Linked DNA regions of Homo sapiens. The protein of the gene in region 1 purifies or fractionates together with the protein of each later gene. This does not show direct contact. Each region holds a gene or a part of one and is shown on either strand. Other genes may lie near its edges. The genes, in order: UBXN2B and FAM89A.

Region 1 (4,375 bases):
CCCAGCAATCTCTGACAAGCCTTCCAGGTCACAGATGCATACTAGAGAATCAACGATACAGAATAATGACATTCAATATGATTAGGGTACTTGTGGCAACACAGTTATCAGAACAGCTATCAGACATTTTAATTCTTCTCATTTATAGTACCCACTATTGAGTCCATCCTAACAAATCCAATCCTAACCCTAACAATACTGAAGTTATCCCTGTTCCCACTCCCTCCCCGTCCAACCTATGTAGAAACAGATAATATGTGGAGGAAAACTGGGACAGAGTATACAACTAAATACCTTAATGAACATGTGTGTGGCGGGCTGAGGGACACCAGAAGAGAAAGCAATTCAGAAATACTATTGAACACTGGTGAGGTTTTGGGCTTAGTTTTGCCACTAACAATCCCACCCCTAACTTTCCCCATGACCATCTCCTTATTTGAGGGGGATGAAGGGAGCTATGAAAATCTACTCTGATATGCAAAAAAACATTTCCGAGTCTGCAGTTTGTAACCTGGGGGCTCCCAGGGCTGGGAGGCCTTTTGGGAAGCAACTATGCAGCTTTTCTCTGGTGGTACCTGGAACACTCCCTCCTGATTCAGATGCTGACAAACCCTACACTGCATGGCAGCTAAGATACACTTACTCAGGGGTAATTCTGCTTGTTCCAATTGGTAATATGTTGCCCCTTTACTCACTCTGAAAGACTCTTAGAGCAAGCTGTTAGGGAAGTAAGAAATATCTACTGAAAGCTGCACGAACTGCGTAACTCTTAAGAAAAGCATGTCTAGATTAAACGGTAACAAGATAATCTATAAATAATCAATATCCAAGGTACCATTTGGGAAGAACATTATTTAATTCTTTTAAACTTTTGATACATACTTTATTTCTTGATATGCCATCCCTTTGGCTGTTTTCAAGTTTCTTTGCAAGTTCTTCACATTCATATTAAGTTCTAAAGGAAAGATTATCAATACTTAGATACTGTACTTGATACACCAAATCACATTCATAAAGAAATCAGTTATCTTCCTACTGCCCTAACCTACAACAAGTAGACAGGAGATGAAAAAAAAAATCCCCATCATAACTTAGGGTGGAAATGAAGGCATTCTCACAATTAGCAACATCTACCAGAGTATCTCCAAACATTAATCGTACTTTGATCCACTGGATTAAGACTGCAAACAATTTGCCAAGAATCAGGTGGTCATTAAGCAAGCTGTTCTCACTTTTCACATAAAAAGAAGAAATGGATTTAAATTAGGGAAAGGACATTAAGTTACACACTCTATTAACTTTAATGATATTAGAATTGACTAGCCAGGGAAAGTTATAGCATCTTTCTCCTGAGGAAAAAGGAATCAAATATTTGCCCAGCAACAACTGAGCCAGGATAATGTAGGAATTTTGCATAGGCCCTTTATAACATTATTTAATCCTTACACCACCACCAGCACCCTGACCTTCCTCAGTTTACAAATGAAGACACAGGATCAGACAGGTTAAGACATTTCTCCTAAGTTCACAAAACTACTAAGTAGCAGGACTAAGAGGCAAACCAAAATTGGTGGGACTACTAACTCCATGCTGCCTCTTAGTGATGTGGGTTTATAATAGGAAAGATGAGGTACACAATAGCTTCCTATCCCTTGATACTGTTTACTACTACTGAACCAACTATGGGAGCTGGAACTATTCTACATTAAGTTCACCTCCTAATGTTACACTGATCTCTCCAGCCTCCAAATTCTTCGCTTTATGCACTGCTTATTTTGGCACCCAATCATACTCCATCTTAAAATGTTATGCTAAGTATTCATACCCTATTTCTCCGAAGAAATCTGTAGGCTTCCAAAAGGTAGAACTGTCTTTTACACTTACATACCTACCCATCAATAGAGTTCAGCACCGACTAAGGATTTGATGTCCTTATTTCCACATTCGCAAAGCTCAGCAGTATGTTACAATGGATGGTGGTTTGTTCACATTAGAATGAAGTGTGGTTGTAAAGTAATACAGTAAAACTGTTCTACCAAGATTCTCCTTAGTATCTCCTTACTGATATTTACTTGTCAAATTTTTATCAATAATCTTATAATGAGACACAAAAACGCCTAAAATGAGAAAAGTGGCGTTAGTATCTGATAAAACGGGATTTGGTGCGCTACTATTTAGCTAACTAATACTAGTGTCCTACACAACATTACGAAATTTTATTTCCCAGTTTCTTCAGTGCAATGTTTTAAAGACCACAGCTTAGACAACTAGGCTGTATGGGCATAGAGTGCATCGCTTTCCTTCACCCCTTTAAAAGAAAAACCTACCTGATAAAATGGAACCATTTTTATATTTAAGTAAGCAAGTCAGAAATAGCATCCAAGACAAAAAAGAACAAATCACGTATCATTACTGTTCAGGTGACTGTCTACTTCCCTGCGGCCACAGTAACCTTTCTTCTGGAGTAAGTCTCAAGAAGGAAGCATCAACCCGTGAACCGACCAACTGACCCCGCAAAATGTCATTCTAAACGAATAGCTATTTTTACATCATACGTGGGGTGGAAGGGAGACAAAGCACCAGCGCTGGAGGCTTGGGCACTTGTGTTCACGACCACCACAGTGTCAAGACCCGACATCGGGAGACCGGGCGCCGGATTCTATCCCCAGACGGGGTCGGGGAAAGGCTCCGCCGAGGCCAGAGGTGGCCTCCAACTCGCACCAGCCCGCGCCGTCACCAGCCCGCGTCCACCGCCGCGCTCCCTCCCCCGGCTCCTCGCCTCACCTGCAAATCCCGCGCGCTCGGAGGCCGCGGCCCGGAAGACCTCCTCTCCTGCTCGCCGGGCTCAGGGCCTCCGCCCTCCGCCATCTTCCGCTGGCTAGCGGCGCCCGCTGCGGACGCACCTGCCGCAACTTCCGGGGCCGGTTGCCTGGCAACCGCAGGAGGGGCGAAGACGCGCAAGGTGCGTGCGCGTCCCCGCTACCCGAACCCGCGCCCCCGCTTCCGGTGCTGGCCCACCTTTTTGGTTTCTCCTTTTTTCTTAAAGGGAGTTTCTCCGCAGGGAAACCTCTGTTAAGTTTTGTGTTGCTCCTGCTACTCGCCTAAAGGCACTGTAGGCCGCCCTAGAGGGCAGCATAGACTTGCAGATTCATTTAGCTCAACAATGAAAACATCCTCTGGATTTTTCATCTGATGAAAAATTGCAACCTCTCCATCTAGTCTTGGTCAGATTCTCTGATCTTTCCTATCAAGGATTGGATGGTACATCGTCACCACAGCGTGAATTAGCACTGAGAGTGAAAAACACCGTAAAAAGTGCTTGGAATAATTTGCTAAAAGCAGAACTCTGCCGGGCCTGTGGCTCACGCCTGTAGTCCCAGCACTTTGGGAGGCCGAGGCGGACGAGGTGATCGAGACCATCCTGGCCAACATGGTGAAACCCCTTCTCTACTAAAAAAAAAAATATATATATATATATATATATATATATATATACACACACATATATATATACACATATATACACACACATATATATATACACATATATATACATATATATACACATATATATATATATATATACACAAAAATTAGCTGGGCGTGGCGGAGCGTGCCTGTAGTCCGAGCTACTGGGGAGACTGAGGCAGGAGAATCGCTTGAATCAGGGAGTCGGAGGTTGCAGTGAGCCGAGATCGCGCCACTGCACTCCAGCCTGGCGACACAGGGAGGATCCGTCTCAAAAAAGAAAAAAAGCAGATCTCGAGACTATCAAGCCCTCGTCATTCAACTGAAATTGATTTAGACTCTGGTCTTCTTATCCTAGGCACTTTTTGTTTTTGAGACGGAGCCTCGCTCTGTCGCCCAAGCTGGAGTGCAGTGGCGCGACCTCGGCTCACTGCAGCCTCCACCTCCCGGGTTCAAGCAATTCTCCTGCCTCAGCCTCCCGAGTAGCTTGGACTACAGGTGCGTGCCGCCATGCCCGGCTAACTTTTGTATTTTTAGTAAAGACGGGGTTTCACCATGTTGGCCAGGATGGTCTTGATCTCCTGACCTCATGATCTGCCCACCTCGGCCTCCCAAAGTGCTGGGATTACAGGCGTGAGCCACTGCGCCTGGCCTCCTAGGCACTTTTATGCCCAAGGGATGCAAAGGTAAAAAGAAATAGTCCCAGTCATTATGAAACTCAGTCTAGTAGGGAAAAGAGACATGTAAACGGGTAAGATGCAGCTTGCAGTAGAGCTTTGCTTGGGAGGGTTACAAAGGAAATGTGAGCCATGTGAGGGGAAATACTCCGTTGGTATCTGCTGTGTGCACCATGCTAGGTGCTGGAGTCGACAGCTTGCCGCCCGAGCTTTGGCATACTGATCGTTTT
Region 2 (2,719 bases), on another chromosome or scaffold:
TGAGCGAACCTGAGGCTCCCACCTACCTGTGGAGTGAAGGAGAGGTTGTCCTCTGGGCCCCTGTTTCACCAGTCATAACCTATGGAGCAGTCAAAGGCCCAAAGCATCCAAGCCCAGTGGGCTTCTGAAATAAACGGCACGGGGTTGGGAAGGATGAGAAAGCCAAGTCAGGTGGGCCAGGTTCTCCGAACATGGGGCAACAGTGACCTGGGCAAAAGGCTGGAACTGAGCGGCTGATAAGGCCACAATTACTGCCACCACCTCTCAGTATCTACACGGGGGGCAGATGTTAGGCAGTGGGAACTGAGGACTGGAGGGCGTGTGGCAAACACCGGATGGATTTTATCAGAAAAGAGAGGACACCCAAACATGTGCCTGTCCTATTTATCTTGCATGTCCTGTGCCAGGTGAAGGACGCTGGAGCATGGGTAAGGTTCCTGAGAACAACTGGTGGGCAGAAATGGGCTGGGATGGGCACTGCTCCACAGGCAACATTAAGCCTCTGAGGGGGACACTAATAGTGCTACATCTGGTGGGCTGCTGAAAAGTAGGTAACGAATGGCCTTTATTGCACTTTTTCATTCTTAGGAAACGGGATTGCCCTGCAGAGCTTCTCTTGATTTGCAGAAATCACTGCAGATCAATGATAAGGTGCAGGCAGAATCACGGGTGACCTCTGACTCTCAAGGGAAGAAGTCCAGTGATTGGTCTTTTCAGGGCCTCAAGGGGCCACTCTTGCACCTGGGATCCTCGAGCTGGGTGAACCGGGTCTGGCTTGGTCAATGTGTGGCAGGCAGATTGGTCGACCGGCAGACACTTGGGACAAAAGGTGGTGTGCCCGGGAAAGCTGGGGCAAACTTTCCAAACGGAAAATTTCTTGGCAAATGTGCAGGTTCTGCAACCAGACTGGAACCACGATTCCCAGTGTGCCTGACTCCCTTTCTCTCACTCTAGAACTGGACCACCCCAGAGGAACAGAGATGGCCTGGGAGGGCCCTGGGTCCAGCGCCATAGCATCAAACTGGAGATAACAAAAGGAAGGGGTTGGAAACAAAAGAGCAGTTTACATATCAGACGTGGGTTTCAAAACAGTCTTTTTGAGCTCAGGAAAATGGAGGCAGATACCACTGGAGAACCTGATTGTCCATCCGTCTCTCCTGGGCGTCTCTGAATACTTCATATATGAATGGAGTGGTACTGTTTGTGGTTGATCTTTTTCCTACAAGTTGGGCAAGTATTAGCGTTCTTCAGGGAATCACGGAGGCACTGGCTACAGAAGACATGGCCACATTCTGTGGAAACGATGAGACGTCTATTCTGCACGATCTCTGAATATCTGTCCATGCAGATAGGACAACCGACAGTACCCGAGGGCCTGAGGCCTATAGCGCCCTCATCCCTGGTGTTTCTGGAAGTGTGGGTAGTCACATACACGTCTCTGTCCCTGGACAACAACTCATCGTCACTGCTCACCATGCAGCTGTCAGCATGGTCCTGGGGCAGCCTCCTAGCATTCCTCCTTGGTCTTCTTCTTTTGTCAACAATCACAACAGAGTCATTGTGAGTCAGATCAACCACCACAGGCTCTAAAGATTCACAAGTGAGGTCAACAATTTCATCTCCAGCAGTTTCCACGAGTTCTATGGGTTCTGCTTCCAAGGAAATCTCAGGGGTGGAGGTTGCTTCCCGTGTTCGCTTCTGGGCTTGTCTAGAATTTATTGCTCCACCTCGACGCTTTCTTGTACTCATTGTGCTCTTTGGTGCCTTTCGTTTCCTAACAGAAAAGGAAGTGATCTATACCAAGGTTTGCAGGGAAGTCGAATGTTCTCAACCTTTCGTGCCCTCTGGTTAATCATCTGGCTTGCAAAAGAATTTGGATCGGGACAGATTTCCAGTATTTTAAAGTCCTGGAGCTAGTTAGGTCTGCAGGCGCTGCCACCGGCGCACTCCAGAGAAGAAGCTCCTTCTCCAGCCGCCCAGGAGAGCTGTACCCATGCATCTTTAGTGCTTTAGCCCGGGAGGCATTAGAATCCTGTTTATTGAGTGGATTGATATTGAATTGCCCTAATAGCTCCATAAGAGAAATTATTGTTCCATTTTGCCATCAACCAAGGCACGGAGATGAAGGTGATAAATACCTTGCTCAGGGGCCAAGAAGCCGAAGGCAGGTCCCCTGGTGTCTTCTTGAGTTTCTTCCCGTTGCCATTCAGAGCAGGGTCTGTGGAACAGCAGCATAGCACGGAATCACCATAGGGGCTTGGTGGAAGCACAGCCATCCAGTGGCCCCAGACCCACTGAATCAGAGTCTGCTTGTTGAACAAGATCCCCGGGTGGTTCTCATGCACTTTAAAGGTTAAGAGGCACCGATGCTGGTCTATGCTGCATTTCCAAGAGGCTTAACTGTTCTCTCTTTGGTATTGGTGTAAACGATGCATTTCCTGTTCTGACTGTGACCGTGCTCTTTTCTCTGGGATGGGTGGTGGGGGAGGGAGGAACTGGAAGATAAACAAGTATATGACTTTTATAAATGTTCTGTGTTCTTTTGCTGCTTGTTTTTGTGGGGCTAGTTTTCAGGAGGAACTGTAGAGCCCTTCATCTTCCAGGGCTTCCTCATATTCAGTCAGTTACTCTGGGGAGGGATCCCAGAACCATCTGGGATAAGACTGACCCTGCCTGGAGGAGAGGGAGGCAGTGTAACCTCTGACCACTGAACTGCACA

What was found.
Region 2: the proteins of UBXN2B (region 1) and FAM89A purify together in Homo sapiens (affinity purification with mass spectrometry; 2 studies listed by BioGRID and IntAct, with this or other methods). This does not show direct contact.

What each region holds. Positions count from the first base shown.
Region 1 is NC_000008.11:58,409,879-58,414,253, reverse strand, and holds the start of UBXN2B (UBX domain-containing protein 2B), read right to left. Parts: upstream 2,894-4,375; 5' UTR 2,869-2,893; coding exon 2,785-2,868; intron 1-2,784. UniProt on the Homo sapiens protein: Adapter protein required for Golgi and endoplasmic reticulum biogenesis. Involved in Golgi and endoplasmic reticulum maintenance during interphase and in their reassembly at the end of mitosis.
Region 2 is NC_000001.11:231,020,641-231,023,359, reverse strand, and holds part of FAM89A (protein FAM89A), read left to right. Parts: intron 1-2,719.